Linked DNA regions of Homo sapiens. The protein of the gene in region 4 interacts with the protein of the main gene of each other region in a biochemical or structural test. Each region holds a gene or a part of one and is shown on either strand. Other genes may lie near its edges.

Region 1 (7,837 bases), on a different chromosome or scaffold from region 4:
ACGAGGGATACGGTGTACTCAGATGCAGGCTGCAGATTCCTCAGTGGGTACTTGGAGACAGAGGGACCCACATTGTACTGCCTGGGCTGTCCTCTTCGGGTAAGGCCCACGGTCAGTCGGTATCCTGTTATCTGGGCCCGAGGTGGAGTCCATCTCACCAGGACAGTAGAATCAGTTTCATTGACAAACTGGAGGTTAGTGGGAGCATCCAGTTCTAGGAAAAAAGATGAAACATGCCAAGAAATATTTAGATCAGTAATGATCATAACTCAAGTCCTGAAACTTGATTGAATGTCTAAGTTTTCTCTCCTCAAGGTTGTAACTATGTGAAAGTCAAAACCCTGGAAAAACTGAGCCAGTAAGAGATTGAGTGCTACACAAAACTTTGCCAAAACTCTGCCAGTCATGAGAAATTGTGGAACCATTTTGCTTGACTGTGATCCTTTGGGAAGTCTAATTTTCCAGCAAGACTTTCGCATCAGTCTCAGAAATTATAGTTACATTAAAGCAATGGTATTTTTAAAAAGGCAAAACAAACACTTCTGAAGTTCACAGTTAGCTCTGAGCCAAACAGATTAAGGAAAAAGGGATATGCCTCCTAAAATGACAGCAAGAAGAAGCTCTCTATGGGTCAAAAGCAATATTCTGTGAATAGCCCTTTGCTAGAGAAATAAAAGTTATTTTCACATGGTTCAGATTAGACAGTAATTACAGTAATGATAACGTATCCTCAGATTCATGGTAGGATACTGGTGAGTTTGCACTATCAGAATCACATAAGTTGTGGAGTTTATTCTTGAGAATAATAACCAGCAGTTTTCCCACCGAAATTTAAATTACCTTTCAAATAGAGGAAATCTTTAAGAGGCAGTCGAGTATAATAATTGAGAGCATGGGCTTCGGACATAGGTTATAGAGCCAGCTCTATCCCTTCCTATCTCTGTGACCCTACAAGTTGCAGAACTTTTTTAAAGCCTCAGTTTCTTTAAGTATTCAATACGGATACTAGTAAGACCTTCCGGCTGGGCACGATGGCTCACGCCTGTAATCCCAGCACTTTGGGAGGCCAAAGTGGGTGGATCACTTGAGGTCAGGAGTTTCAGACCAGCTTGGCCAACACAGCGAAACCCATTTCTACTAAAAACACAAAAATTAGCAGGGCATGGTGGCACACGCCTGTAGTCCCAGCTACTCGGGAGGCTGAGGCAGGAGAATTGCTTGAACCCAGGTGGTAGAGGTTCCAGTGAGCTGAGATGGTGCCACTGTACTCCAGCCCTGGCGACAGAGCGAGACTCCATCTCAAAAAAATAAATAAATAAAATAATAATAATAAGACCTTCCTTCCTAAGGTCAAAACAAAGAGTAAATATGAGAATAATGCTTGTAAAAACTGAGCAGATAAGCTGGTGGCTAGTAATACTAGACACTTGACAATTGCTATTGTTAAATGAATTCTACTCTAAGTGTTATGATCCTGCATTTTAACTTTGATCTAGATATATTTAGTTACACGAAAAATGCACTCAAATTAGATTCTCTTCAGTTCTCCCCTCTTAGTACCCTTCAGCTGGTACATGTATTTTAGAAATGGGTTACCACTTAGCATCCATGGAGCTTGTCTGAGTTTTGTTTTCAAGTTTAATGTGCTTTGTGTTCACTATGCATTCCCTTGCCGGCTGGGTATTTCCCTCTCTCTAAGCCATACACCTCTGAGTGAATGGTTTACTGCACTTTCTCACAGGCTGCAAGTGAGGGTGGAGAATTTGGAGGGGAGATAGAGATAGGAGAAGACATACTGGTTGTCTGTTGAGCAGTCAGAGGCTTGCTCTCCCTCCCATGGCTCACTGCAAAGACTTTGAAGTAATAGGTGACCCCAGGGGACAGCCCGGTGACTTCTGCAAAGGTGTTCCTGCTGATGGGCAGCCTCTGCCCGTGCTCGCCAGGCAGGTTGACGGGGATCACATCCACACGGTAGCCGGTCACTGCACTCTCAGGCGGTGTCCACATGATGGTGACCTTCACGTCTGTCACTTCCACAAACTGCAGGTCCCTGGGAGAGGGCACTGTATCTGACAGACAAGAGTCAACTGGTCATTCACATTCTCTGCTGAAGATTACTTTTAAGAAGCCAGTTTCTTGGATATGTTAGGCAGTTCATTGAGCCTCTCATTCGAGAGTTTTGCTAAGTTTTGTCTCTTAATCAGATCACATTTTCATGGTCCAGTCATAGTGCTTAAATTATGACATTTGAACCTTTTATCTAAAATAGGTAATAAGTGAGTTACCAGCATATGAAGTGTCATATGGTGGTGGGGGGAGAGGGTTATAAGAAAAGATACTAAAAAATTTTTTAGAAAAAGCCTTTGAAATAACTGCAGAAAATAATGTAACAGTTTTTGTTTTACTGAATCATTTTATAATACTTAAGAATCAAAAATGAAATGACCCTTAAGCTTCTAGGGGAAAATTTGTAGATGGACGTTATGGTGTCAGTTTTTAATCAGAAAGGCCAGTAGCCAGCTTTGATAAGTTACTTATGACATTTCAGCTAAATATCAGAAGTTTAGGGAAAAACTAATATATAAGATTTCTTGAATGAGAGGACTGTTGACAGAGACAAAACAACCCTCCTTCAGGAACAATCCTGATAAGATAACATAGGAAGTGTCTTCTTAAAAAAGTTACCTGAGCGTGGGGTGCCAGTGGTTTCTTGTTGAATGACAACAGGTGTACTTTCTTGATTTTCTTCCACAGCATAGATAGTGATGTTATACTGAACACCAGGTTGCAAGTCACTGAGGGTGACGGAGTTTGCAGTTTCAGGAAGGTTGAGTTCTGTGCTGCTACCTTCTACTGATGGCGAATAGACTATTCTGTACCCTGCAGATTCATGAGCAAAAGTAAGATGCACTGTTTTCTTTGAGACAGAGGCTTAGAAACACCATAAATCCTCCCTTTTCTAATATCCCTTAGCATCTTGCTTGATTAGTGAAGAGCCAGTGATACTTTTTGACTCTTTGAATATTGCCACTTCTTCTAATAATGACTATTCAGCACGAAGATAAAATAAGAACAGTCATGCGAACCTTTTTAATAATAAATGTCATCCTTGAAGACCTGACATCCTTAATAAATGTCAATTAGAGATGCCATTAGGTGAAAATATTCATGTTAAGCTGATTTTTCCTCTTTGAGCTCCAGACGAGGGAAGCAATTAATGAACCAGCCTAAGCAGAGTTGTCTAGCACTGTGTGTGTCTTTTTGGAACTTCAGTGATGAGGCAGTTGAATCACCTAATGAGCTAAGACGACAGCTCAGCTTTCTCCTTAAGGATAAATCTTAGAGCAACGTTTTCAGGAAATTACACCTCTTCAACCCTGGGAACACTTGCTTTAATAAGCCAATGAGCTGGCTTTACAGGTTGTGTGTATGTTGTGGTGTGTGTGTATAAGGGAGTTGGTGAAATGGTTTCAAGGGGAAATGTGCCATAGAAAATAACTCCCCCACCCCCGCCACACACACACACACACACACACACAAACCCCTCTCCCATAAATTATATTGGAGATTTAAAGTGATATGCAGGTCCGCAGTCAGAATCTGCGCCCTCCCTGCTGATGTCATTAAGATTAACATAGCAGCCAAAGAGGGGGACGCTTAGCTGACCTGTGATGGGAGCCTGGGGTCTGCTCCAGCGAACAACAATTGAGGTGTCATCAACTTGGTCCACAGTCGTGTCAGGAGGGGCATCAGGCGCTAAGAAAGAAAGAAAGTGGGGCAAACAGTCAGGAAGTGCTACTACAGGCCTGTGTTTTACAGAAAAAGATTCTTTTAACACTATGTAGCACACATGTACCTGTTGTTTGTGAAGTAGACAGGATCAAACTCTGCTCCCCATCCTCAGATATCTGATAGACATTTACAATGTATTTTCGGCCAGGAAGCAGGTCAGGGATGTTCACAGAAGTGGCTGTGCTTGGAAGATCTTTGAAATGAAAAGAAAAGGTAACTAATCAGAGCAAACTAGTCCCTCAAATGACTCTACAGCTTATAAGAAGGATATTTTAAGAATTATATATTCATAGGGAAAAGCGACTAGAAGGTAATGTGCTAATAGCTAATCAGTGATTATTATTATTATTTTTACACAGAGTCTTGCTGTGTTGCCCAGGCTGGAGTGCAGTGGCACAATTTCAGCTCACTGCATCCTCTACCTTTCCGGTTCAAGCAATTCTTCTGCCTCGGCCTCCCGAGTAGCTGGGATTACAGGTGCACACCACCACACCCGGCTATTTTTTTTGCATTTTTATTAGAGATGGAGGTTCACCATGTTGGCCAGGCTGATCTCGAACTCCTGGCCTCAAGTGATCCACCAGCCTCAGCTTCCCGAAGTGCTGAGATTATAGGAGTTAGCCACCGCACCCACCTAATCTGTGATTATTAATGTACTATGGGAAAACACCACTTCTTGTCTTTCTCCTTTCTCCTCCTCCTCCTTCTTCCTTTCATTTTTCCAACTTTTTTTCTAAAGACGTATAATTTTTGTAATCGAATGCCAAATTTTTAAAAATAGCTCTCTGCAGTAAGAGTCAGGGTAGTGATTATTGGCGGAAGATGATGGGGTGAGGGTAGAGAGATATTCTTTTCCTTGATCTGGGTGCTGGTCTTGTGGTGTGTTCACTTTATAAGAATTCAAATTCACTGAACTCAGTGCTTACGATGGCACACACTTCAGTGCGCCAATGAAGTTTTTTAAAGGCCCCTCACCATAACAATTTGAAAAGTATGAGTGACCGTACTGTGCTCACATTGTCAGCTGCAGTCCTGGTAATTACTTCCACCAAGAACACAGCTTTTGCTGTAGGAACTTGTGCACAGGTAGGCGCATGATGCAGCTGGCATCAGGGACCAGGAACATGTGACAGTGGCTTGGGAAAAACCCGGCCACTTCTTAGAAAGAGTCAGTCCTTCCCTTCCTCATGCCAGAGGGTGGTTTGTTCAGTCTGAGCTGTCAACCAGTTCCAAACCACAGATACCACCTGCCTAGAGGCCACCCACCCCCACAAGGAGAGTTTTCCAGCAGCTGCCCTGAACCTGTCTTGAGCGACATATTGAGCTTACCCAGGTACTGTGGCTCATCTCCCTCCTCACTCAGCTCATATTCCACCCGGAATCCCGACACGGTGTCGGAAGCTGAGACCCAGGAGACCACAAAGCTACTGGCTGTGATTTCGGTCACAGATTCAGAAGTGGCCACAAGAGGAGAAAAGGGAGTCGTCTCTCCTGTCACGGTGTTGCCTAGAGAGTCACAGAAAGGGGAAAGTCAGCCTTCAGTCATCTAGAAAATTTACCGTCCTCGTCGCCAACATCATTTTAAAAAACGTTGGTGCCCCTCCTGGAAGAATATGAATTGAGAAGGAAAGCATTGCCTCAGGAGAGCCTAGCTCTAGGAACCTCGGGGGTAGGAGGCATGAGGGTGGTTGTGTACATACTGGTCACAGGTGTGCTGGTGCTGGTGGTGGTGAAGTCAAAGCGAGTCACTTCTTGGTGGCCGTACTGCTGGATGCTGATGAGCTGGCCCTCGTATACCACACCAGGCTTCAGGCCTTTGATGGTGTAGGAGTTTAAGTGGCCTGGTATGGTAGCTTCCTTCCAACGGCCTACAGAATTTTTCTGAAAATTTAAATTAACACACACACACACACACACACGTGTTTACAAGGATGAACATTTGAAGATGATGTTCAGTAATCTTCAAAGAAAAATGACTTAAGCAGGACTTAGGCAGCTCCATTCTAGAGGAAAATCATGGAAAACTGGATTCCCAATGGTTATATCGTTAGATATAGTTAGATATAATGCTAACTATTGTTAACATCAACAAACTGCTGCAGTTTACTTACTGATACCCATACTCTGTGCTGTTTACCTACATTCTCCCATTTAGTCTCCATATCCTTCTGATGATAAGGCAATGGCATTGTTGCTCCCGTTTTACAGACGGAAAAACAGAGTGATATGTGATATGCCCGGGGTGACATAGTTGCAGACACTGGGCACCTTCACTTTTTTTTTTTTTTTTTGAGACAGAGTTTTGCTCTTGTTGCCCAGGCTAGAGTGCAGTGGCTCAATCTCAGCTCACTGCAAACTCCACCTCCCAGGTTTAAGCGCTTCTCCTGCCTCAGCCTCCCGAGTAGCTGGGATTAGAGGCGTGTGCCACCATGCCTGGCTAATTTTATATTTTTAGTAGAGATGGGGTTTCTCCATGTTGGTCAGGCTGGTCTCGAACTCCCGACCTCAGGTGATCCACCCGCCTCGGACTCCCAAAGTGCTGGGATTACAAGCGTGAGCCACCACGCCCACCCACACCTTCACTTTTACCAAGTTAATTGTGTTATATCAGTAACATAATATGATGAACCTAAGCTTTGCCTCTCTCACTTATTTTTTATTCCTACCACAAACAGATATATTCCTCTCTGAAGTACAGAAATGCCAATGCCATATATTTTATCTTTTAACTCAGTGGGATACAATTCAAGTTTCTTGTCCTGAAAAAACAAAGGCAGAATGTTGCTTTGTGACTCATCATATACCAGGTTCAACGAGTCTGGTTTTGTGACTCATTCTTGGATATGAGCTACCCCATCAGAAGTGGTTACCCAATTTTGGACAAGACTACAGAAAAAATGCAATTTTGGTTTATTTAATCTTTTGCTTCCAGTTTATATTTCACATCCTGTTCAGCTTCATTAATATGCCATGGGTCACAAAACTCAGTGCAATAAAATGTGTATGAAAGAAACACCCTTCAGAAAAGATGAGACTCTTTCAAGTGTAAATACTCTAAACTAATATAAGTCAAAATATATTTTTTGTGCCCAGTGATTTTTAAAAATTACCCAGTCAACCATTTCCTCAATAATTCAAATACTCAAGTGTCCATTTATATTTTTGGAATAAGCGAGAGTGATCGTAGTACTCTTCACAGTGAAATTTTAACTCAAATACACTGTGGAAAATTTTGAAACCAGTCATTGCAATTAGCTCAAATTTAGTAATCATTTTTCAACATGAGCTTGTTTGGTTAGTTATTACAAGAAAATAACAGAAAATAAAGTCTCAGGTGGCATCCATTAGAAAAAACCCTGAATTTTTGTAATTGTTAAAAATCTCAAAAAATTCATCACTGCTGCTTTTTGAAGACTTTCCAATTCAATGTACTTTTTTTTTTTTTTTTTTGAGATGGAGTTTCGCTCTTGTTGCCCAGGCTGGAGTGCAGTGGCGTGATCCTGGCTCACTGCAACCTCCGCCTTCTGGTTTCAAGCGATTCTCCTGCCTCAGCTTCCCGAGTAGCTGGGATTACAGGTATGCGCCACCATGCCCAGCTAATTTTTTTGTATTTTTAATAGAGACGGGGTTTCACCATGTTGGCCAGGATGCTCTCGATCTCTTGACCTCGTGATCCGCCCACCTTGGCCTCCCAAAGTGCTGGGATTACAGGCGTGAGCCACTGCGCCTGGCCCAAAGTACATTTTATACCACTTTTAAGTCTCCCATTGCAATGGTCTCACATAATACTTTGGATATCCTTAATTTTAAAGTAAATAAAATTAATGATGTAATAAGAAGATGAGAGACTAGAAGATATTGGATGCACTGATGCTGTTGATTTCGATCACTGGACATCAAGTTCTGCAAATGGCCAGATTATGGACATAGGGTGAAAGAAGAAAAAGAATGACTTTTCTTTTTTTTTTTTTCATTCACCATTTGTTAAGCAGTGTGCCAGGTGCTGAAGCATTCTAGACTCTACGGAGACTACATTGAGCCAATG
Region 2 (7,837 bases), on a different chromosome or scaffold from region 4:
GAAGAGGCACTGGTCAGGGGAGGGACAGGTGCTCTTGGTGGTATCAGATCTTGTGAGGTGCAGACACCCCGGTGGGTCCAGTGCTCCCACCCAGGGACAGAGAAGGATGGGGCACGGGGAGGGAGAGTGGATGGTGGGGGGCCTGAGGGTGTGCCCAGTCAGAGGGCTGAGGAGAAAGGACCTTTGTGTGCGACAGCTCCTGCTGCCAGAGCAAGTGTGGGTTTTATGGCAGCTGTGGCCTCCCGTCCTAATATAGTCAACAGCTCCAAATCCCCTGCCCTGACACCTGTTAGCGAGAGGTTCCCTGAGCTGACCTCTCCTTGGGCTGCCCCCCCAGCATGTGCATCTGACGCGTCGAGGGCCAGACCCCCACCCTCTCCGAATCACACGCATCCTGGTCAGCCCCCAGTTGACAAATTGCCTTCTCTCGACTTGGGCAGGGGCTGCTGGGGTTTTGAGGGGCGGGGTTTGTTCAGCTGTTGCTAGGGAAGGGTGAGGCTGAGCTATCCCAAAGGAAATGGGGTGTTCCTCTGGCAAGTGGCAATCTTGGCAAAGAACTGAGCATCTGGGGAGGGGGCAACTCCGGACACAAAGAAGTCCTGGGGAGGGCCGACCTTTCCCCTTAGGATGGGGGAAATGAAATGCGCTTAATGCTGCTACAGCTGCTTCCTAACTTTGCCTCTTTCTTCCTTTGACTTTTGGAGGAGTGGGGTGGAAAAGAGATGGGGGTTCCCAGGCAGCCAGCTGTTTTCCCCACTGACCCATGCTCCAATTCCCACTGCCCTGGCTCAGTAGCCTCCAGTAAGTGATGCCCAGGATGGTGCGGCTCCGTGTGGCCAGCGTAATTCCCTTTGTCTCTCCCCTCCTCCCCTCTCCCTGTCTTCCTCTCTCGCCCCTTGGCTTCCCTTCCCGGCCCCGTGGTGGCTGCAGCCCAGCCCTGGGGAGCCCCTGTGGAAGTGGAGTCCTTCCTGGTCCACCCCGGTGACCTGCTGCAGCTTCGCTGTCGGCTGCGGGACGATGTGCAGAGCATCAACTGGCTGCGGGACGGGGTGCAGCTGGCGGAAAGCAACCGCACCCGCATCACAGGGGAGGAGGTGGAGGTGCAGGACTCCGTGCCCGCAGACTCCGGCCTCTATGCTTGCGTAACCAGCAGCCCCTCGGGCAGTGACACCACCTACTTCTCCGTCAATGTTTCAGGTTGGTAGCCAAGCCCTGCCCTTGCCCCTCCCTAGACCCACCCCCTCCAGCCCTCTCTGCCAGTTTCAGAGGAAGGTGAACCTCCTCCCCCTCCGTGATCTGCCCCCACTCTGCTTCAGAAACTGCTGCCCACTAACATTGCTCCCTGCCTGCCGCGTGGCTTGGCTCTCAGAGAGGTGACTAGGTGGGGTGGGCCCCAGGGCCGGAGATCTGGGGCTTCCAGGACACACCTCGGAGGTGATTGCCAGGGCTCTTGGGATGTTAAGACCCTGTGATTTTTTTCCACCACAGCTTGCCCAGATCTCCAGGAGGCTAAGTGGTGCTCGGCCAGCTTCCACTCCATCACTCCCTTGCCATTTGGACTTGGTACTCGGCTTAGTGATTAGAGGCCCTGAACAGGTGGTGGTATCCCTGCTCTGCTGGAGAGGAACCCAGGTGCACCGCAAGGGAGCTGTGCGAGGGCAGCCAGGGAGCCCTGGAGCTCTGTGAACTTGGGAACTTGCCACTCTTAGAATGTGACTTTCACAAAACTAGGAGTTGAGGAAGTGGAGCTGAAATTTTCTTTATGCCATTTATGCACCTCAGGGTGTGGACTTGGCAGCAGATCCCCAAAGGTGATAGGAAGGACTGGAGAAAGATCTGGCATGAACCCTGATGGGTGACCACATGTGTATCAAGCGTGTTCTTACAAGAAATAAATACTTATTGGGGAGAGGTGTTGGCAGCTGCTGGGGTGGTGGGTGCCCTATCTGCTCTGATTAAGGAGGGCAGCCCCCAAACCTTAGTAGACACATGCTAGAAAAATTCTGACTGTGGGGTGTTTAGCCCATCCTTTGGAAATAGCATCTAGCCACAGTGTGTCTAGACCTGCCTGGGTTTCCCTATAGTCAGCCGTCCAAAGAAGAATACAGGTTGCCTGGCTCCAGCACACCCAGGTGGCACCACAAGTTGAGAAAGCGCCTTTGAATGTAGGACGGAATTAAGTTAAATAGGAACAGCTGACCCTGATGGAACCACCCAGTGTGAAGGCTTCCAGGCAGTGGGGGCAGTGCTTCGGGGAAGGAAGCAAACACGCACAGGAACTGTTCTTAAACAGTTTCCATCCCACCAAGAGATCATCACTAAGGGAGCAGTGGGACTGGGATCCCCATGGGGAGGGTGTCCGTGTTCATCTGGAACTGCACTAGCCTTGGTGAAATCTAGGGGTCCCTAGGAGGAACCTCAGTGCCCCTTCTTCTTCCCATAGATGCTCTCCCCTCCTCGGAGGATGATGATGATGATGATGACTCCTCTTCAGAGGAGAAAGAAACAGATAACACCAAACCAAACCGTATGCGTGAGACACTGTTTCCTATCTTACTGCCCTTTGGGTCTGGGCATTGGGTTTAAGAGGGGAGGGGAAGGCTGAAAGGGGAGGAAGAGGAGGGCACATGGGGTCACGGTGCCTGTTCTGCTAAGTGCCAGGCACTGCTCACAGGTGTTGGGCAGATGGGCAAGACACCTCCAGGTCCTGGCCTGGGCCCTGCTCCTGAGCCTGACCAGCTGCTCCTCTCCACCCTGCCTGTCTCTCTTGGCTTTCCCCGGGCAGCCGTAGCTCCATATTGGACATCCCCAGAAAAGATGGAAAAGAAATTGCATGCAGTGCCGGCTGCCAAGACAGTGAAGTTCAAATGCCCTTCCAGTGGGACCCCAAACCCCACACTGCGCTGGTTGAAAAATGGCAAAGAATTCAAACCTGACCACAGAATTGGAGGCTACAAGGTACGTGTGTGTGCATGCGAAAGTTAGAGTAATGGGAACAGGGGAGGCCGAGTTAGGAAGTCCTGATTACATGCTTTTCATTTTTTTAAGTAATACTTTCCACCTATACAGGTTATTCATTAAAATTTTTAAATACAAAAAAATGCAAATAAAGTTTAAACATTTCTTCAGTCTTCTTTCTGTAATATGGTTTTTACATAGTTGATCACATCATGTATGTAATTTCCTTGCCTTGTCATTTGTTAACATGAGTCTTTTCCTGATATATTTCAAGCATGAATATTTGAAACATAATTTTTCATGACTGTATAAGATTCCATTATTTTAAAATCCCATAATTTGGCTGGGCATGGTGGCTCACGCCTAAAATCCTATCACTTTGGGAGGCCGAGGTGGGCGGATTGCCTGAGCTCAGGAGTTCGAGACCAGCCTGGGCAACATGGCGAAACCTCCTCTGTACTAAAAATACAAAAAATTAGCCATGTGTGGTGGCAGGCTCCTGTAATCCCAGCTACTGGGGAGGCTGAAGCAGGAGATTGCTTGAACCCAGGAGACAGAGGTTGCAGTGAGCTGAGATCACGTCATTTCACTCTAGCCTGGGTGACAGAGTGAGACTCTGTCTCCAAAAAACAACAGAAAAAGTCCTATAATTTAATGAACTATTTTGTGATATTAGGTATTTTCTGGTTTTTCACCATAATAAATAATGTTGCAGTGAATCTCTGTCAGCATTTTTTTAAGCGTGCTTCCTTAGGACAGATTGTTACAAGTGAAATTACTAACTTAAAGGGTGTAAGCATTTTTTTTTTTTTTTTAGACGGAGTCTCACTCTGTCACCCAGGCTGGAGTGCAGTGGTGCCATCTTGGCTCACTGCAAGCTCCACCTCCCAGGTTCATGCCATTCTCCTGCCTCAGCCTCCCGAGTACCTGGGATGTGCAGCCACCATTCCCAGCTAATTTTTGTATTTTTAGTAGAGACGGGGTTTCCCCATGTTGGCCAGGCTGGTCTTGAACTCATGACCTCAAGTGATCTGTCCGCCTGGGCCTCCCAAAGAGCTGGGATTACAGGCTTGAGCCACCGCACCCAGCCAGAAATATTTTAAATTAATTCACCATGCACTCACTACATGCAAGACACCATGCTTTAAATGCTGCAAGATAGCGTTCCTGCCCATAAAAATTTTGCAGTCTGATAGGAGGCAAATGTCCATGAGCAGCTACCGTAAAAAGTAGACTGTGATCAGTGCTTTGGTAGGCAGAGAGGAAAGGGTGAGCACAGTTCTGACCAGAGACTGGACTGGAGGAGATGGTTTTTGAAATGAGCTGTCAAGGACAGTGGGGGCTGGATTCTTAGTGTAATAGGAGAGGTGCACAGTTGGGAACATTCTTGGTGTATTTGGGAGTGTTTGCAGAAGGCACATCTGTCCGGATCACGAATGATCTTGAACGTCACAGTGGAGACTTCTGGAGTCTTTACACCCCATCTGCCAGCTTGCAGAGTGTGAACGGGCTGGTAGGGGGGCAATCCACGCCTTGTCCTAGCCAACCCTGCAGCCTGGGGCCCTGTGCCACCAGGCTCTGATATGGAGGGCAGGTGCCACGGGGTGCCGACATTGTCATGGGGCCTGCATTTTCCTCTGGACCCTCAATGTATCCCTTTGGCATTTCCCCTCAGGTCCGTTATGCCACCTGGAGCATCATAATGGACTCTGTGGTGCCCTCTGACAAGGGCAACTACACCTGCATTGTGGAGAATGAGTACGGCAGCATCAACCACACATACCAGCTGGATGTCGTGGGTAAGAGGGCAGAGGCAGCAGGAGGAATGAGTTTAGTGGGAAGAGCCAGGCTTGGAGAACACAGCCGGGGTGTCCAGGTTTCTTAGGGGCAGAGTCAGGATAGCGATTGGCACTTCTTGGCTTTGTCACCTTGAGCAGGTCACTTCTCCCTTTTGAGCCTCACTTTTCTTATCTGTAAAATAGAGTTAAGATCAGACAGTAACACGGTCAAAGCTGGTTGTCACTGTGAAATTGAAGGTGCTGTTCAGAGTCTGTCCTGAAGGAGGCGTTGTTGGAGAGGTGTTAAATGTAGCGTAATAGGAGCTGTCGCTTAATGCTAGCAAGATGCCAGGCTCCTTAAATACCTGCCCTGTAATGCTCATGGCACACCTGCAAGGTGGGCAGTATTAGTCTAGCCCTGCACAGGAGCACAGGCGCATAGGCTCAGAGAGGTCAGACACCTTGCTAATGCAGAACTGCACACCTGTGCCAACTTCAGGGCATCACAGGAGACTCTGGGAAGAACATTGAGCCTCTTGGAGCTATTACCGCAACCTTTTCCTTCTAGGAGTTCTGAAACTCACTCCCTAGAGATCATTGGGTACAGAATCTCTCAGCCAGTGTTCTTCTTGATTATGATGATATGGTCTAAGAAGGAGATTGTGGCCAGGAGCAGTGGCTTATGAGCTCCAGGTGGCATGATGGGATTACTCACGCCTGTGATCCCATCACTTTAGGAGGCCAAGGCTGGAGGATTGCTTGAGGCCAGGAGTGTGAGACCAGCCTGGGCAACACAGTGAGACCCTGTCTCTATAAAAAAATTTAAAAATTAGCCTAGTGCAGTGTCATGTACTTGTAGTACCAGCTGAGTTAACTGAGGCTACTGAGGTGGGAAGATCACTTGAGCCCAGGAATTCGAAGCTGCAGTGAGCTATGATGACACCCTTGTGCTCCAGCATGGGTGACAGAGTGAGACCCTGCCTTTAAAAAAAAAAAAGGTAAAAAGGAGATTCTGATCCAAGAGGTTGGGGTAAGATCTGAGATTCCGCGTTTCTAACAAGCTCCTAGGGGATGCTGGTAGCACTGCTCGTGGACCACACTTTGAATAGCAGGAGTCAAAGTGACTCTGGTTTTTTAAGGAGGAGCAGGTTGTGCTGAGGTCTGGGGGTGCAACTGAATTAGAAGGTTCTCCATTAAAGCATGAGCGACTTACTGTGACTGTAAATATGATGACTGCCTTGGGGAGGAGGATCCTGATGGCTTAGGGCCTGAAGAGAGGGTGTCCCTTTCCCCAGCTCTGTTTTGAGAGGCTTGGGCTCAGCAGAAGTGCTGGGAGGTTTACAACCCATCACTGGGAAAGCCAAGTGGGGCGCAGGTGAGCCCACCCCTCTTTAGCCATGGCAAGGTCCCCATGACAAGTGCCTCCTCTCCCATCTTCCACAGAGCGGTCCCCTCACCGGCCCATCCTGCAAGCAGGGTTGCCCGCCAACAAAACAGTGGCCCTGGGTAGCAACGTGGAGTTCATGTGTAAGGTGTACAGTGACCCGCAGCCGCACATCCAGTGGCTAAAGCACATCGAGGTGAATGGGAGCAAGATTGGCCCAGACAACCTGCCTTATGTCCAGATCTTGAAGGTAATCATGGCACCAGTCTTCGTGGGCCAGTCTACTGGGAAGGAGACCACTGTCTCGGGGGCTCAAGTTCCTGTGGGCAGGCTCAGTTGCCCCCGAATGGGATCATTCCTCACGCTTCAGGCACACACACTCCATCTCAGTAGGGATCTAGCCACATCCCCCAGGACTAGTAACAGAGGTCACAAAGTGGAGGTGAGCTGGGAACAGAGGGCTGCAGGGATGGGTGGTGCTGGTCTGTAATAAGCTTTGAGAGCAACGTCACTGGGGCTTTGGGGTCAGCTACACAAGGAAGGCATTTGGACCCCTGCCTTTTCATTGCCCGAAACCAGAGCCTTTCCACCAAGCGTTTCCCAGTCTTAGCCCTGTGTCCTGAGTTACGTACGATCTTTCTGGCAAATGGGGTGCATGATAAGAGCATCTCTTACGAAGAGTTGGAAAAACAAATGCCATATATAAATTCTAAGCCATATGAGGACGAGGAGTAATGGCATTTTCTTCCTTTTTCCTCTCACTCCCAGACATTCATTGTCCCTGAATGCTCCATTAATCCAGGGAAGGTAATTGCCTAAATCTCCAGTGGATCTCGCAACAGGAAGGAACCAGAAGCTGGGAAAGTTGTTTACCTCTTTGTCCCAGAGTTAGACCTCATCCTCCCCTAGCTTAGCTGTCTCAGAGATATACTGGCCCTCCCTTCTCTTCTCTTTGCTGCTGGTGCTAAAACTGCTCTGTAGGTCATTGGCCACTGTCTCCACTCACAACCCCTGCTCCAGTCCTGGAGGGAGTGGGTTAAACACAAATAGAACATTCCATTTGAAGCAGTGATTCTTTTTTTTTTTTTTTTTTTTTAATCAAATGCTTTGGACTTTTGAAGTCCACTTGTTCTGTACTTGTAAAAGGGAAAGAAGGCCGGGCGCAGTGGCTCACGCCTGTAATCCCAGCACTTTAGATCACTTGAGGTCAGGAGTTTGAGACCAGCCCGGCCAACATGGTGAAACCCCATCTCTACTAAAAATACAAAAATTAGCTGTGCATAGTGGTTGGCACCTGTAGTCCCAGCTACTCAGGAGGCTGAGGCAAGCTAACTGCTTGAACCCAGAAGGCAGAGGTTGCAGTGAGCTGAGATCACGCCACTGCACTCCAGCCTGGGTGACAGAGTGAGTGAGACTCTGCGTTAAAAAAAAAAAAAAAAAAAAAAACTAAAAGGGAAAGGTAATAAATCTCACTTAACATCTCCCTTCGCTCCCTGGGCCTGCCTGAAAGTTACACGGGAGCAACGTGCGTGGCCACATCTCAGCTTTGCCCAACTGACTGGTGTGTCGTTGGTTTGTTCCAGCATTCGGGGATTAATAGCTCGGATGCGGAGGTGCTGACCCTGTTCAATGTGACAGAGGCCCAGAGCGGGGAGTATGTGTGTAAGGTTTCCAATTATATTGGTGAAGCTAACCAGTCTGCGTGGCTCACTGTCAC
Region 3 (7,837 bases), on a different chromosome or scaffold from region 4:
GGTCACCGCCACGCGGCTGAGGGCCCTCCGCCTGGTACACCGGTACTGAGCCCGAAGCCAGGCCCCTCCACCGGCGAGTCCTCTGTCCCAGGTGAGCGGCAGGCGGGCAGGCAGCATGCGGGTTAGCGCAGAGCCGGGCGGGTGCAGGTGGAGGATGGACACAGGGACACACAGGCTGCGGAAGCGAGCAGGCAGCGGGCAGGGGTGGAGAGAGGCGCAAAGGGGTGCTCACAGACGGCACGGAGCCGGCCCGGTGGGCACCGGGCACCTCCTGTGGGGGTCGCAGGCGTGCGGGAAGGGTCGGCGCAGGCCACAGGGCTCGAAGCGGGCGGTCACCGTGGAGGCTGGAGCTGCCAGCCTTGCCGAGGCGGCCCCGAGTGGAGCGCGAGCCGGGGCGGGAGCGAGCAGGGCTGGGCGTGCGGGGCGTGCAGGGCGCGCGGCCAGGGCCTTGGAGCTGGAGCTCTTGTGCCGGCCGGCATGGGACAGAGTCGTTACCTGCTCGGGGCCCGTGAACGCTCAGCCAAAAGGCCTTCTCGGCCACGCCTATGAAATTGGTGGCTCGACAGAGGTACTCGCCCCCGTCCCGCTCCGACACATTGGCCAGGCGGAGGCGCACGTCGGCCTCCACACTCTCACTGATCCAGGACTGCGGGGACAAGAGACCCGGCTCAGGCACGCCCCCGAGGCAGCCCCGCCGGGCACGAGGCAGGATGTGGGAGACCCCCAAGGTACAGATCGAGGCTGGGCTGCGTCAGCCCCAAAGGCTGCCTGGAGGAGGCGTGGAGGCACTTCACGGTGGCTGTGGTTTCACAGGATGCACGTCTCTGCCTCCACCCCAACAACCCAGCCCAGACCCTCAGACAACCTCTGGTCACTGGCCTGCCCTCCCCCGGGCTCTTGCAGAACCTGCACCCTGGACAGGGCCCGAGGCGGCCTCTCTGGGCGGGGTCTGGACTCCACCCTCGCCCTGCGCCTGCTCCCCGCCCCCAAGAGACCGTCTTCTCTCTGAACAGATGTTTCTCTTTGGGCTTTGAGTGTCGCAACCGTCCCAATTCAGTGGCCCCCACCCGGCAGCCATGGGAACAAAGCTAAGGGCTTCAGGAGGCGGGCAGACAGTGAGCTCGGGCCCCACTGCACACAGCTGACGAGAGCCAATCGGCCAGGTCGGGGCTCAGCCACCGCCTCTGAGGCCCAGAGGGGGCCTGGAGGGCTTGGCCACACTGCCCTCCTGTCCTGGGGCACCACTGCTGCCCAAGCCGCACCCACCCCCAAGAAGCCCGTGGGCAGCTCCATGTCAGGGACTTCAGTGGCTGAGGCTGGCCCTCTGCAGACACGGAAACGGGTCCCAACGCAGCTGCCTATGGCCCTGAGGTGTGGGGTGGCTGAGACTTGGCCCCACAAGCACCCCCACAGCTTCTGCCCCCGAAGCTCCAACCCCTAGACCCAAATCCTCACGCAACCCGCAGCCAAGGGGCACCCTTGGGGCCAGCCCAGGAGCCCCAGCGGCGGCACCCACGTGCACACGGTGGCCCACCTTGAGCACGGTAACGTAGGGTGTGCCGTCCGGGCCCACCTTGCTGCCATTCACCTCCACGTGCTTGAGCCACTGGATGTGGGGCTGTGCGTCACTGTACACCTTGCAGTGGAACTCCACGTCGCTGCCCAGCACCGCCGTCTGGTTGGCCGGCAGCCCCGCCTGCAGGATGGGCCGGTGCGGGGAGCGCTCTGTGGGGGCAGATGACGCTCAGGGGCCACCCCCTCCCTCACCACCACCGCCACTGCCGCCCCCACCCCCGCGCCGCCCCAGGGCCCTCACCCAGCACGTCCAGCGTGTACGTCTGCCGGATGCTGCCAAACTTGTTCTCCACGACGCAGGTGTAGTTGCCGCGGTCCGAGGGCACCACGCTTTCCATGACCAGGCTCCACTGCTGATGCCGCAGCTGCACCGGGACGCGGGCGGGTGAGTGAGCGGAGGCAGCAACCACCGCGCCTGCCAGGCCCAGAGCCACCCCGCCGCGCCCACCTTGATGCCTCCAATGCGGTGCTCGCCGCGGAACTCCCTGCCGTTCTTCAGCCAGGAGATGGAGGGAGTGGGGTTGCCAGCGGCTGGGCAGCGGAAGCGGACGGTGTTGGCGGCCGGCACGGCCAGCAGCTTCTTGTCCATCCGCTCGGGCCGTGTCCAGTAAGGGGCCCCTGCGGGCCGAGGTGCGTGTGAAGGCCATGACCCGAGTGGGAGCAGAGGCCCCTCTGAACAACCCCCTTCCCAGAGCTGCCCCTGCCCATCCCCAGCCTCAGTTTCCCGTCCTGTGTAGGAAGAGGGCGGGATGAGGTTCCCAGGAGCCTCCACATCTTGTCCCCTCCCCGGGGCTTTCTCAGAGCTGGGCCGTGTGTCCCCTCCCCTCCCCTCCAGGGTGCTCTGCCCGGACCTGTGAAGTCACAGGGCACAGGGCATTGTCCAGGGGAGCCCACCTGCCCAGAGAGGCGTGCCAGGGCCAGGCCCACCAACGGGGAGACTGAAGACCCAGGGGGCAGGCCCATCTAGTGGACAAGCCAGGACCTGGGAGCAGTTTACCAGGAGAGGAGCCCAGTCGCCTGCAGAGCCAGGAGCCTTGGAGGCAGCTGGGCAGCATGGGCCCACGGAAATCAAGACCCTACACCACCCTCTGCAGAGCTCCAAGTCTGGCGGGCACCCAGAGACGGTGGCACCCTGGAGGCCCTGCCTCCTCCCATCTCGATGTCCAGGGCTCCCACCACCCCTCTCACAGCCCAACTGGTTTTTCTCCTTCCTCAGGGCTGGTGCTGCCTTCCTGCCGGGACTCCAGGCAAGGATGGGCTGGCATTCCCCAGGAGGGAAGCAGCCCTCCCCTCAGTGAGCTCACTGCCAGCCCCCTCCAGGCACACGCCCATCAGGGGCACTGAGGCCCAGCAAGCAGCAGTGTGGACACAGGCTGGAAAGAGGCACCCCACGGTGCTGAGCTCCCTCCCAGGCCTCCTGGAGACCCCCAGGGTGAGTTCCCCCAGCTGTTTCTCTCATGGACTCAGCCTCCCTTCCTCACCTGCTTACCCCACTGGCCCAGGGACCCAGCGCACACACCATCAGTCCGCAAGTCGTAACTGCCCCCCATGTCTGTGCCACGATGACCCTCACCTGCACGCACTCCCCTCAGAGCTCCCTCCAAAACCAGAAGCCCCACCTCCCCACCCTACAACTTGGCAAAGTCCACCTGCCACCGTTCCAGGCCGGGACGCCAGGCATCGTCCCCGACTGCTCTCTCACAGCCGCAGCCCACCCACCAGCCACCCTCCTGCCAGCCACCCTGCCCGCCACTGGTTGTGGCAGGTGCCCCGGCGCCCTCACCCCGGGTCCATCCACCCCACGGCAGCCACCTGAGTGCCCTGCCCTGCTGCGCTAATGTCTGCGGGGTCCACCTCACCTATAGCCAACACCAGAGCCCCACAGGCCAGCCCTGGCCTCCTCCTGCTCCTGGAACCCCCAGGGCCCTGTGCCTCAGTCTCCCCATCAGCAACACGGTGTCCCCTTGCACCCCAGCCCTGCCACCAGGGTGGGGCATCTAGAGCCATGTCAGTGACCCAGCCCCTCCTGTATCCTGAGGGGACCAGACCTTCGGGGTGACCCCAGGGAGGTTGTTCCGGGGCCTTAGTCCCTCAGCTGCCTGTGAAGGGCAGGGCTTGGCGGTGGCAGCGGGCCCCACCCCGGCTGGCCTGAACCCTGGACCCTGCTCCTACCTGTGTCCACACCTGTGTCCTCAGCCTCGTCCTCCCCGTCTTCGTCATCTCCCGAGGATGGAGCGTCTGCAAGGCAGAGATGGCCGCAACCAATGCCCAACCTGCCCCAGGAGGCCCCCAGGTGCCCCTCCCAGATGGGGCAGGGTCCCCCATTTGGGCAGCACTTCCTGGGGGTGCCCTCCTCTCCACCAATGACCAGAGAGACCCCCAGCCGCTCCTGACCCACGCAGGGACTCAGGGAGCCCGGCACTCGGCTCCTTTCTGTAGCTGGCGTGGCCCCAGAGCTCACCTGTCACCCGCACACTGAAGTGGCACAGTACGCGCTGCGTGAGCCGCTGCCGGCAGCTGTAGGCCCCGGAGTCCTCGTGGGAGGCATTCAGCACCTGCAGCCGCTGGGGCCCCACCAGGACACGCTCCGAGGGCACCAGCCCTGTGCCATCCTTGACCCAGACAGTGGGCCCCATGGGACCACCCCCGGGCGGGGGACAGCTCAGCTCCACAGCATCCCCGCTGCCGAAGACCAACTGCTCCTGCTGGCCGGGCTCTGGGCCCGGGACTTCTGTGGGGAAGATGGGCAACCATGAGGCAGGCACCCCCAAACCCGGCACCGTTTACAGACACAGCAGTGGAAGCCTCGGCGGCCCTGAGTGAGGAAGGCTCTGACCCAGATCCAGGGTCCCACCAGACCAGGGGCTGGAAACTGTGTCCCAAAAGGGCCAAAGGTCTCTATCTTCAGCTTTGCCAACCAGTCTGTCCCAAGGACTCCGGTCTGCCTCGGTGTGACAGCCGCCTTCCCCACACAACCTGCAGCCAACCCCACAGCAGTGGCCCCATGATGCTTCACTCATGGACACGGAGAATTCAAATCTCAAAGTGTCACAAAATGTGACTCTTCGTTCTTTTAATTTGTTCAATTGCTTGGAAACATAAAATCCATGCTTGTCTCACAGGCGGCACCACGACGGGCAGGTGCTGCGGGCAAAGGGGACAGGCTGCCCTTTGCTGGCCTCTGACTGAAATGGAGCTCAGAGGGGGTGCCAGGGTTGGCCAGCCAGCCCCCTCGTGGTGCAGATTCACCCCAGGAGGGGTCCGTCCTCAGTAGCCCCCGCACCCCATATGAGCCTGAAAAGCAGTTCAGATGGACAGCCAGGGAACAGAACAGGCGAGAAGGAAGGAGGTGCAGGGTCACGTGGCCGTGTGGACGGTCTGGGGGGCGATGCGCGGGTTCACCGGTCAGAGCACAGGCCGGAGCAGCGCGAGGGGGCCGGGGCGGGGGTGGGGGCTCCTTGGGGTGGGCAAGGTTCTGTATCCTGCAGCTCCTATGGAAGCTCCACACGGCGGTCATGACGGAAAACATACCGAGAAGAGCAAAGTACAAACACGGCGCTGGGTCCGGCCAAGTGGGTCTCACAGGCCGGGGAGTGGGGAGGCCCAGGCGGGCCCTCAAGGGGGCCGGGGGGTGGAGTCCTGCTGCCTGCAGGGGGACTGGGGCCCCCTCACAGAGGACGACCAGGCTGGGGGCAGGAAGCTGTGAGAGCCAGGGCAGGTCAGCAGCCCTGGCCCCTCCCTGGGGGCTGAGAAGCTGGGGTGGGGGCCCACCCACAGGGGCAGATGTGCAGGTGGCCCCTGGGTCCCTCCCCAGTAGCTGCCCAGCTCCCCAGAGCCACCAAAGCCTGTGACCCAAGGACACACCATGGGCAGGGCTGGGGGGACAATCGCCCCTAGGCTTCCCTGCCAGGGCCAGACAATGCATGCAGGCAGGCGTCCCGGGCTTGGGGCCGGGACGGGGGTGGGTGGTCCCCCAGGCAGCCTCCTTCTTCAGACCCAGCTGGGCGGGTTGCGCCATCACTTGTCATTCTGCAGACGCGTGGCCTAGATTCGGGGGCCCAGCTGCCCACTCTGGCCACACCAGTCCCTGGCTGCCCGGCCAGGCCCTCTTCTGCCCAACCCACCTGATCCAGCCACACACGCCTAGTGCCCAGGGTGACCCTGCCAGCCAGAAGGGCCCACACTCATCCCCTGAAGCATCCGAAGGAGCCCTCGCCCCACCGGGACCCACAGCTCAAGGACTGCCCCTGTAGGGACCCCGCAGTCAGGGGGGCTCCTGGCCTGACCTCCAGCCCTCCGGTCCTGGCCAGTGTCTTGTGGGGACCACCCAGAGCTGGGAGCTGCTCGAGGCCCCCCAGAAGGCCGAGAACAGGCTGGTTATGGCAGCCTCAGCTGCAGGCCCTGGCCCAAGGGCAACAGCCGGTTGGTTCCGGTTTGGTCTGAGTGGCGACAACAGGTCAAGCCATCCACACAAGTATTTGCTTCAGCCTGGTCCAGCACGGGGGGACGGGGGACACAGCAGCCCCAGGCCAGCCACACCAGTGGCCATCTGCCCGTGTGTGGTGGGGAGGGTGCAGCCCTGACTGCCCCCCCCACTGCCTGCCTGCTAGGTGCCAGCAGAGGCCAGGGTACCCCAGCAGGGGCTGGGTGGCGAGCACCAGGTGAAGGACAGTGTGACACGGGGCATGAGTGGGTGCTATAAGTTCAGGGTCTGACTCCCACTGGGAAGTCAGCAGTTGGGTGGAGCCCCCATACCCCACCCAGCTGCCAGGCATGGGGAGAGCTATAGCCCCCCAGCAGCCCTAGGAAGGGTTCTTTCTTTCTTGATCCACAAAAGGGAGGCCCCACTGACACCACACAGACACTGGTGCCCAAACACGTTGGAGACAAAACTCCTGCTGTACCCAAGGCGGGGTAGGAGGCAACGCGTCCCACCTCCCACCCTTCTATGGATCCCACAACACGTGCTCCTGCCGGCGCCCCAACCCCACACAGTGCCGACCTCAACTTGGGCTCCACATGCCAACGACAGCCCTCTGCTGTGTCCCAGAGTCTCCACAACTCTGCCACTCACTGGTCCTGTACCTCAGTTTCCCCCACTGTGGCACAAAGTAAAAATCCCACCCCACAGGCCCAGGAGCTCAGGGAGGGCACCAGGCCCTGAAATGGCTGCAGGAGTGAGGGTAGGGGTGAGAGGCGCTCCCTGCCCTGGGTCTCTGGCCCCAAGACTGATGTCCATTAGGCAGGGTGCTGGGGACGGCCAAACTCTGGCCTGGGGAACCTTTCTCCAGGCTCTGGGTCTCTGCAGTGGAGGCCCAGTGCATGTGAGGGAGCATGGCTGAGAGGATGGGGGAGCCTTGCTCCATCATAAGCCCCTCGGGTTGACCCCAGAGAACAAGGATCAAATCCAGACTCGCTTCCGGAGCTGGCTGCCCCAGGGGTTTATTTGGGTTTTGGGGTGAGATGAGGGCCTGGGGTCAGGAAACAACACATTCTGGTTTCGGATGCACATGAAGTTCTCTGCAGCTCTCTGGGGTACAGGAGGTATTGCCAGGTAGGAGCTATAAAATAGCCTAAGAGGAGGGGGCCCCCAAAAGTCCAGCCTCCCTGTCTCCCCACCTGGAGTTTCACAATAAAGTCCGGAAAAAAGGGATCTGGAGGCTGGGCAGGCTAAAGAGGGCTTGCCAGGGTTATCTGGCCTAATCCTTCAAACAGCCTGCCATTATCGGTTCTCTTGGACAGGTAAGGAAACTGAGGTTCGAAGAGGGCACCCGAGCCTGAGCTGGCAGCCTAGAGGTCCAGGCTGACCCCTACCCCACCAAAGGTGGCTCCACTCCTGGCTCATTCACTCCTGAATCACTCAGGTGAGGGCTGCATGCCTCCCTAGATGAGGTGACTTTAGATCCCCGTCCTCCAGGAGACCCCAAGCCCCTGGGCTCCCACTCAAGCTCAGCTGTAACAAGGGGTGCCACAGCCCCAGATCTAGCCCCAAGTGAGACCTGAGGGCTGGGGAGCTGGGGGGTGGGTAACAAGGGGTTCCTAGGCTCACACAAGGACCTGGAGGCCAGGCTCAGCCCAGGTTAATGAACCACCCAGAGGCCCACGCGGCTCAAAGTCCAGCCCTGCAGAGGAGGAGTGGGGGAGGTTGCAGCCAGCACCTTCGGGAAAGGCCCTGCACCCCCAGACCCCTGCTGGGTGGGGTGGGACTGTGGGAGAGCCGACCTTGTGTACCTCCCTGCACCCTGGGGGGTCACTCCAGGTC
Region 4 (7,837 bases):
GCATGGTGGTGCACGCCTGTAATCCCAGCTACTCAGGAGACTGAGGCAGGAGAACCGCTTGAACCCGGGAGGCAAAGGTTGCAGTGAGCTGAGATCACGCCATTGCACTCCAGCCTGGGTGACAGAGCTAGACTCTGTCTCAAAAATACCAAACAAAACAAAACAAAACAAAACAACAACAACAACAATTACAGAAACAGTGGAAGCAGAAATAACATCAAGTTATAACAGTTTAACTGTACGTAATCTCCTGAAAAACAAGTATGCAGAATGCATATGTGCACGTCATGTAAACATAAAAACAGTCAATCTGTTAAAATGAGACACAATAAGTTTTCTTAAATTTCCATTACAACACCAAAATTGCACCTACAATAGATAAAAACCATAAGAAAGAATTCAAAAGTCAAACTGTTTCGTATGTCGTAGTTTAAATACTTTAGTCACATGCATGTGGGTAAGAAGATTTGCCATATAATTATTCCAAATCAAAAACTCACTCTCCCTCCATTGTGCCTTGTTGTGATATGGCGCCCATCATGTCACAATCATCTTGAAAAACATGACACAGTCACTTACTGTTGTTGGTTGCATGTGTCGATGTGAAGTGAAGGGACACCTTTGCACTCTTCAGCCGTGTCTGTCCCCAGTACGTTATGGCTTGCAATTCCACAACATAGTCACAGTCTGGCTGGAGTTTCTCCAGGATCACAGAATTTTGAAACTAGAAATTAAGAGAATATACCCAAAATGCGTTACAAACCTTCCACGTCTCTCATCTTCATTGCAAAATCTCGTGTGTCATTATGAAGCATGCCAACTTCTGATTTCTTTTACCAACTTTTCTATATCTTTGGGATCTGAAAATTCAGTTTTACTACTGATCAAAATAAACTTCAGGCCAGGTGCGGTGGCTCCTGACTGCAATCCCAGCACTTTGGGAGCCCGAGGTGGGAGGATCGCTTGAGCCCAGGAGTTTGAGACTACCTGGGCAACATAGCAAGACTGTCTCTACAAAAAAAATTAATTGGGCATGGTGGTGTGCACTTGTAGTTCCAGCTACTCAGGAGGCTGAGGTGAGAAGATTGAACCCAGGAGGTTGTGGCTGCAGTGAGCTGTGATCGCACCACTGCACTCCAGCCTGGGCAACAGAGTGAGACCCTGTCTCAAAAAATATAATGAAATAAAAAATAAAAATAAACTTCATAGAAAGGCCAAATGTATTTTGAAATACTGTTTCTAAACCAATTATTGGTCTCAGATACCATGGAAATAAATCATTCTGAGCCCTCGCCACTCTGAGACACCACCTCTCGAAGGAAAGGGAGCTGTTTATAATAAAGTAACAGAGATCTATGTTGCCACATACATGGAAAAATTATGAATTGGCACTAATTGCAATTCTTTGATATCTGTTCTAAATTTTCTAGGAGCAAATTTCCACCAAAAGCTATACAAAAGAAAAATTAACTTGACAAAATGCTTCAAGGTGCTTCATTATTTTCTGTCATAATGTATTGGGCAGGGGGCTGGAGGGTGGGACCTGTCAGCATTTCATCATGTCACTTTTTGCTCTAGATTCCTAAGTGATTCCCCAATTTCAGCTCTTCCAGCTCATGCAATAAGTGTGCACTACCATTATCATTTGTAGCAAAATCCTTCAATATAAAAAATGGAACTGTCATAAAATTTCATAAAAATAAAGTGGGGCTGGGCGTGGTGGCTCACGCCTGTAATCCCAGCACTTTGGGAGGCCAAGGTGGGCGGATCACGAGGTCAGGAGATAGAGATCATCCTGGCTAACATGGTGAAACCCTGTCTCTACTAAAAATACAAAAAATTAGCTGGGTGTGGTGGCGGGCGCCTGTAGTCCCAGCTACTCGGGAGGCTGAGGCAGGAGAATGGCGTGAACCCGGGAGGCGGAGCTTGCAGTGAGCCGAGATTGCTCCACTGCACTCCAGTCTGAGAGACAGAGCGAGACTCCCTCTCAAAAATAAATAAATAAAGTTAAAATAGTATAATGGCTAAATATCAATGATACCAACTTTTTGAGGCATGTTTTATAATTCTGAAGAGCACAGATATTGAAATCTTTAGCCTTGCTATCTTTTCATTTCTAAACATTTATTTATGGAATTCAACTTTATAAGTGATAGGAAAAGGTATTTATGTAAATTTTATGACAAGATAAAGGAATGTATACTAAAAGGAATCCAAATAACTATTTTTATGCAGTAAGCATTTCAAATAATACAAGATGCTTGTTATCATAAGAATCTCATTGCAGAAAATGGTTCAATGAAGATTTTATTTCTTGGCATCTGACGGATAAACCACTCCAGATCCTTTTAATCAATGAGAAGAACATATTGTGAGACGTGGCCTTCCTAAGCTGTTACTGCTCAGTGATTAGATTACAGACGGAAACACTTCGCAACAGAAAAGCCATGAACATCCACTCTTCCATTTACAAGGATCTCTCTCTCTCAAAAAAAAAAAAAAAAAACTTAAAAGTAAAGTACATTTTGCATAATATCATTTTCTATGGCCAGACAGGTAAGATGGGGATCATTTAAACTGTTCCTTTGATTTCCAGAGTTCTGACTGACATTTAGATAGGAGTAGGTCAATGGTCTAAATGCAAATGCTTCTGCCTAAAATATAAAAGGCAAAACAGCCGGCATGCCCCTGCATTCTGTGAACTTCCTCGGTAGAAATGAATGGGAGGGAAGCTTTCCTGCATCCATGGCATCTCTCAGTTTAGCAGAGGCCTCTTTTCAGGCCAGTTGCCTTGAGTTGAAATACCCTCTGTGGGAATAACAATCCTTCCTCCAGTTCCCACTCACCCCATCCGTAGTCTTTCTCCGCTTCTTCTTTGTTGGGACAAGAGACTTACTGCTGACCATCCAGCTCCAAAAGACCTTGTAATGATGCACAGGGATGTCCGGCTCCTCGGGGAGATCCCAAACTATAGTGACGGTCACACTCCCATCACTGTTGACGGTGGAGTTGGCCAGCCGGAGGTTAGCCGGTGCTGGTGGGGCAGATGGATCTGAAATCCCAGTACAAAGACACATCATATGACTCCACAAAACTAACATCTTTGGACATGTAATGACTACATGGTCAACACGTGAAGCATTGCTTTTTATAGATAGAAAAGCTGAAAACGGGGGTGGAGGGGCATGGTGGCTCATGTCTGCAATCCCAGCACTTTGCAAGGCTGAGGCTGGCAGATATCTTGAGCTCAGGAGTTTGAGGACAGCCTGGGCAACATAGTGAAACCCTGTCTCTACAAAATTTAAAAAATTAGCTGGGCAGGGTGGTGCATGCCTGTGGTCCCAGCTACTCAGGAAGCTGAGGCGGAAGGAGCGCTTGAACCCGGGAGGTCAAGGCTGCAGTGAGCCGCGATTAGCACCACTGCATACCAGCCTGCGCAAGAGAATGAGACACTGTCTCAAAAAAAAAAAAAAAAAGTAAAAGAAAGGCAAAGCTGAAAACAAGCAGTTAAGTAAGATCTCCTTGTTAAGCCTCAAATTAAAAGATAGAGTATTAAACAGTAAGATAAATTTGTTTGGTCCAAATTTGTAATACAGAAGGATCGTTTTAGGCATTTCCATACCACGGCAACCCAGCCAAATTTTTACTGTGCTGAAATTGACATATTTTAGTAAAATATAGTACAATTCAATGTGGGTGAATTGACATTAAATAGGTAAGCAACAAAGAATCACCTTTTAACACTCTGAAAAGAAAAAGAAATTCAGCTCATAAAAGCAATTGTTTTCATCTTCGTGCCCTGTAGCTAGCAATTCTTGCATCAGTTAAGAACAATAAAGGGAAATCAGAAAAGAAAAAAAATATAAAAACCTGCACCATTTTTTATCCACATTGCACACTGGATGACTTATGGATAGCATTCATTTTTGTGATTGTACCATTTCTGGTTTGTCTTATTAACAAAAACCTTCTCAGCTGTCAAGAGAAAGATGAGGTGCTGGAATTACCACCTCACAAATCTCCACTGAAAATACATATATGAAGAAGATTAAATATACCAAAGCTGGAGGGTCTTTACTTCATTTTCTATTACAAATTGAGCAAGTGGAGATGCTGCTCACCACCAGTGATTTACAGAGGGTTTCATTTCAAGATGCCATCACGGGAAGATGCTGTCAATAATTCTAATTATAGCACCATCTGTGTTGGAGGCTCAAAAAAGTAATATCTAACTTGATATACATGAAGAAGACTGGAGAAAAAAAATCCTTGTTTTTATTCTCAGTCATTTGTGGTTTTGGAATGATGGAAACATAACTTATTTTTTGAAATTTCTTGCTTTCCTCTATGATATATCATGTCTGGACATTTAGTTAGGTTAGTTCCTTTATTTTCTAAAATAAGAAAGCTTCATAGTATTTTTTAGGTAAGAGGCTAATTGAAAGCATATTATGTGATACTGCTAGTCAAGTCATTTTTTTTTTAAATTAACTTTTATTTTCAGTTCCAGGGTACATGTGCAGGCTTGTTACAGAGGTAAATATGTGCCATGGTGGTTTGCTGCACAAATCAACCCATCACCTAGGTATTAAGCCCAGCAACCATTTAGCTGTTCTTCCTGATGCTCTACCTCCCCACCTCCCCCAAGCAGGCCCTGGTGTGTGTTGCTCCCCTCCATGTGTCCATGTGTTCTCATCCTTCGGCTCCCACTTAGAACTGAGAGCATGCAGTCTTTCGTTTTCTGTTCCTGCATTAGTTTGCTGAGGATAATGGCTTCCAGCTCCATCCATGTCCCTGCAAAGGACATGATCTTGTTCCTTTTCATGGCTGCATAGTATTCCATGGTGGATATGTTCCACATTTTCTTTATCCAGTCTACTGTTGATGGGCATTTGGGTTCATTCCATGTCTTTGCTATTGTGAATAGTGCTGCAATGTACACAAGTGTGCATGCATCTTTATAATAGAATGATTTATATTCCTTTGGGTATATAACCAGTAATGAGATTGCTGGATCAAATGGTATTTCTGAGTCAAGTCATTCTCAATCAACATCAGGAATCTCTGGAATGTCCAAGACTTATACTGGGATATGCTGATTCCCTGAGTGCAGGTGGGACCCAGGATTATGTATATCTTATATGAAACACACAGGTAATATGAGGTAGATGACCTGCAGGTCAAAAGTACTGCATCAGGTGGCTCCTATGAGGTCTGAACATCACATATGTAAGGAGGAAATGTATTTTTCCTGTCGTTATTGGAATGGGAAGCACCCCAATATGGAGGTCTGGCAGAGCCATGTGAGGACTCCCCCAGTCATCAATATTCACAACACTGCTGATCACTTCCTTCTCTAAGAAATGCAGGCTTCATTTGGTGTTCAGGACACTACTCTACTGGATTTTTTTTTTTTTTTTTTTTTGAGACAGAGTCTCACCCTGTCACCCAGGCTGGAGTGCAATGGTGTGATCTTGGCTCGCTGCAACCTCTGCCCGCCTGCCTAGTTTAAGAGATTCTCCCACCTTGGCCTCCCAAGTAGCTGGCATTACAGGCACCTGCCATCATGCCTGGCTAATTTTTGTATTTTTGTAGAGATGGGGTTTCACCATGTTTGCCAGGCTGGTCTTGAACTCCTGACATCAGGTGATCCACTCGCCTTGGCCTCCCAAAGTGCTGGGATTACAGATGTGAGCCACCACGCCTGGTCTCTACTGGATTTTCATTCAGTTTCAACAGAAGCTATTTTTCAGCCCCATGCTCCATGATCCTTAACATCTCATAATCTCTAGACAGGAGAGTGTTCTGCATCTGAATTCAGGGGCCTCTCTCTTCTCATCTACACTCACTCTCTAGGGATCTCATCAGGTGTCACAGTTTTAAAAAAATCTTTGTGCTGATAACTTTCAAATTGATATCTTTAACATAGACTATGCTCCTGAATGCAGATCCAATCATTCAAATATCAATACTCAAAAAATACCTTCCAGTAGCTCCACTTGGAGGTCTCAGAGGCATTTCAAAACTAATGTGTCCCAAAGAAAAATCATGATCCCTATGCACAGCCCACCACCAACACATATCCTACCACACACAGCCCACCACTGACACCCCCATCTCAGTACATGGGAATTGCTCTTTCCAGTTGCTCTGGCCCCAACCCTTGAAGTCATACATTTATTTTCCACTCATATCTCTTGAGCAAATTGTGTTAGCACTACCTTCAAAGTGTAACAGGAATTTAACTGCCTTTTACCACTTCCAATGCCCTGGGCCAAGTGCCAAGGGCTCTCCACTGCCTCCCTAGAGGTTTTTCTGAATACAGCAGTCTGATGATTCTATACTGCCAGACCATGTCACTCCTGTGCACAGAATCTCCTTACTTAGGGTAAAAACCCAGGAGTCTCCTGAATGCCTTGCAACCCGTGCCTCAGTTACCTCCCAGAGCACCTTTCATTTTATCACCTCCACCCCTCAGCCCAGCCACACTGGTTCCCATGCTGTTTCTTGGAGAGGAAAACCGCGATGCTACTGAGGCTTTTCCTCTCCCTTTGCCTAAACGCTTTCCCTGATGTCTCCACGGCTGGCTCCTTTCCTGCTGCAGGTGGTGACCCTATTTAAAATAGCTACATATGCTTTGCTCCATTTACCAAAAAAAAAAAAAAAAAGTCACCATGATTATGCCTTGCTTTATTATTCTCCAAGCCCTTATTACTAACTGTTATGGTAAATATTGAGTGTCAACTTGATTGGATTGAAGGATGCAAAGTGTTGATCTTGGGTATGTCTGTGAGGGTGCTGCCATGGAGATTAACATTTGAGTCACTGGACTGGAAAAGGCAGACCCTCCCTCAATCTGGGTGGGCACCATTCCAATCAGCTGCCAGTGCAGCCAGAATAAAAGCAGGGAGAAGAATGTGGAAATTTTAGACTGGTTTAGTCTTCTGGCCTACATCTTCCTCCTGTGCTGGATGCTTCCTGCCCTCGAACATCAGACTCCAAGTTCTTCAGCTTTGGGACTCAGACCTTTGAACACAGACCGAAGGGCTGCACTGTCGGCTTCCCTACTTTGGAGTTTTGGGGACTTGGACTGGCTTCCTTGCTCCTTAGCTTGCAGATGGCCTATTGTGGGAACTCATCTTGGGATTGTGTGAGTCAATACTCCTTAGTAAACTCCCCTTTATATATACATCTATCCTATTAGTTCTGTCCCTCTAGAGAACCGTGACTAATACACAAACTGACTTATTAGGTACCTTGTTTGCTGTCTGCTTCTACTCACGATAATGAAAGCTCCCTGAGAGGAGGAATGTTTGCTTGTTTTTTCACATCTGTATCTCCAGAGTCCAGAAGAGCACCTAGCACACAGTATGTGCTCAGTAAGCAATTGCTGAATGAATAAATGAAGGACAGGCTTCTAAACGTTAGCTTTGATTTGTAATGTGATATTTCAGTTTCAGGTTCAAACTCTGTCAATCAGAATTGCTAGATCACAAGATCCTAAAGTGAATTGCAAAATCAAAGGAGTGTTCTTCCCAGTTTGAAATAAAATAATTAAAGCAACACCTCTTCCTCTGGTGTAGGAATCAATCCTTAACCTACAAAAGGTAGTTACCAACCTTTCTGGGAGGGAACCTAGTTTACAACTGAATCGTCACTTCAAGGCAAGAGAAGAATTAAAATGTGTGAAAATAACAGCCGTTCGTGTTCTCGGCAATGCACCTGAATGTCTATATGCTGAAAATAAGTAGTCACATGAATATTGCAGATATTCTAGGCTCAGAAGGAAAAGCTCAAAATAATCTCCTCTTCTAAAGAAACTCTAACATTTAAGAAG

The links.
Region 1: the proteins of ANOS1 (region 4) and FN1 form a complex in vitro, tested with the Homo sapiens proteins (one study listed by BioGRID).
Region 2: the proteins of ANOS1 (region 4) and FGFR1 form a complex in vitro, tested with the Homo sapiens proteins (3 studies listed by BioGRID and IntAct, with this or other methods).
Region 3: the proteins of ANOS1 (region 4) and FGFR3 form a complex in vitro, tested with the Homo sapiens proteins (one study listed by BioGRID).

Annotation. Positions count from the first base shown.
Region 1 is NC_000002.12:215,404,442-215,412,278, forward strand, and holds part of FN1 (fibronectin isoform 1 precursor), read right to left. Parts: intron 5,674-7,837; coding exon 5,493-5,673; intron 5,299-5,492; coding exon 5,122-5,298; intron 3,986-5,121; coding exon 3,857-3,985; intron 3,757-3,856; coding exon 3,667-3,756; intron 2,881-3,666; coding exon 2,686-2,880; intron 2,070-2,685; coding exon 1,797-2,069; intron 215-1,796; coding exon 1-214. UniProt on the Homo sapiens protein: Fibronectins bind cell surfaces and various compounds including collagen, fibrin, heparin, DNA, and actin. Fibronectins are involved in cell adhesion, cell motility, opsonization, wound healing, and maintenance of cell shape.
Region 2 is NC_000008.11:38,423,042-38,430,878, reverse strand, and holds part of FGFR1 (fibroblast growth factor receptor 1 isoform 1 precursor), read left to right. Parts: intron 1-930; coding exon 931-1,197; intron 1,198-2,443; coding exon 2,444-2,533; intron 2,534-2,785; coding exon 2,786-2,958; intron 2,959-4,633; coding exon 4,634-4,757; intron 4,758-6,179; coding exon 6,180-6,370; intron 6,371-7,837. UniProt on the Homo sapiens protein: Tyrosine-protein kinase that acts as a cell-surface receptor for fibroblast growth factors and plays an essential role in the regulation of embryonic development, cell proliferation, differentiation and migration.
Region 3 is NC_000004.12:1,795,723-1,803,559, reverse strand, and holds part of FGFR3 (fibroblast growth factor receptor 3 isoform 1 precursor), read right to left. Parts: intron 4,307-7,837; coding exon 4,037-4,306; intron 3,814-4,036; coding exon 3,748-3,813; intron 2,194-3,747; coding exon 2,024-2,193; intron 1,941-2,023; coding exon 1,817-1,940; intron 1,726-1,816; coding exon 1,535-1,725; intron 647-1,534; coding exon of another isoform or gene 496-646; intron 1-495.
Region 4 is NC_000023.11:8,567,653-8,575,489, forward strand, and holds part of ANOS1 (anosmin-1 isoform 1 precursor), read right to left. Parts: intron 3,053-7,837; coding exon 2,847-3,052; intron 725-2,846; coding exon 580-724; intron 1-579. UniProt on the Homo sapiens protein: Has a dual branch-promoting and guidance activity, which may play an important role in the patterning of mitral and tufted cell collaterals to the olfactory cortex. Chemoattractant for fetal olfactory epithelial cells.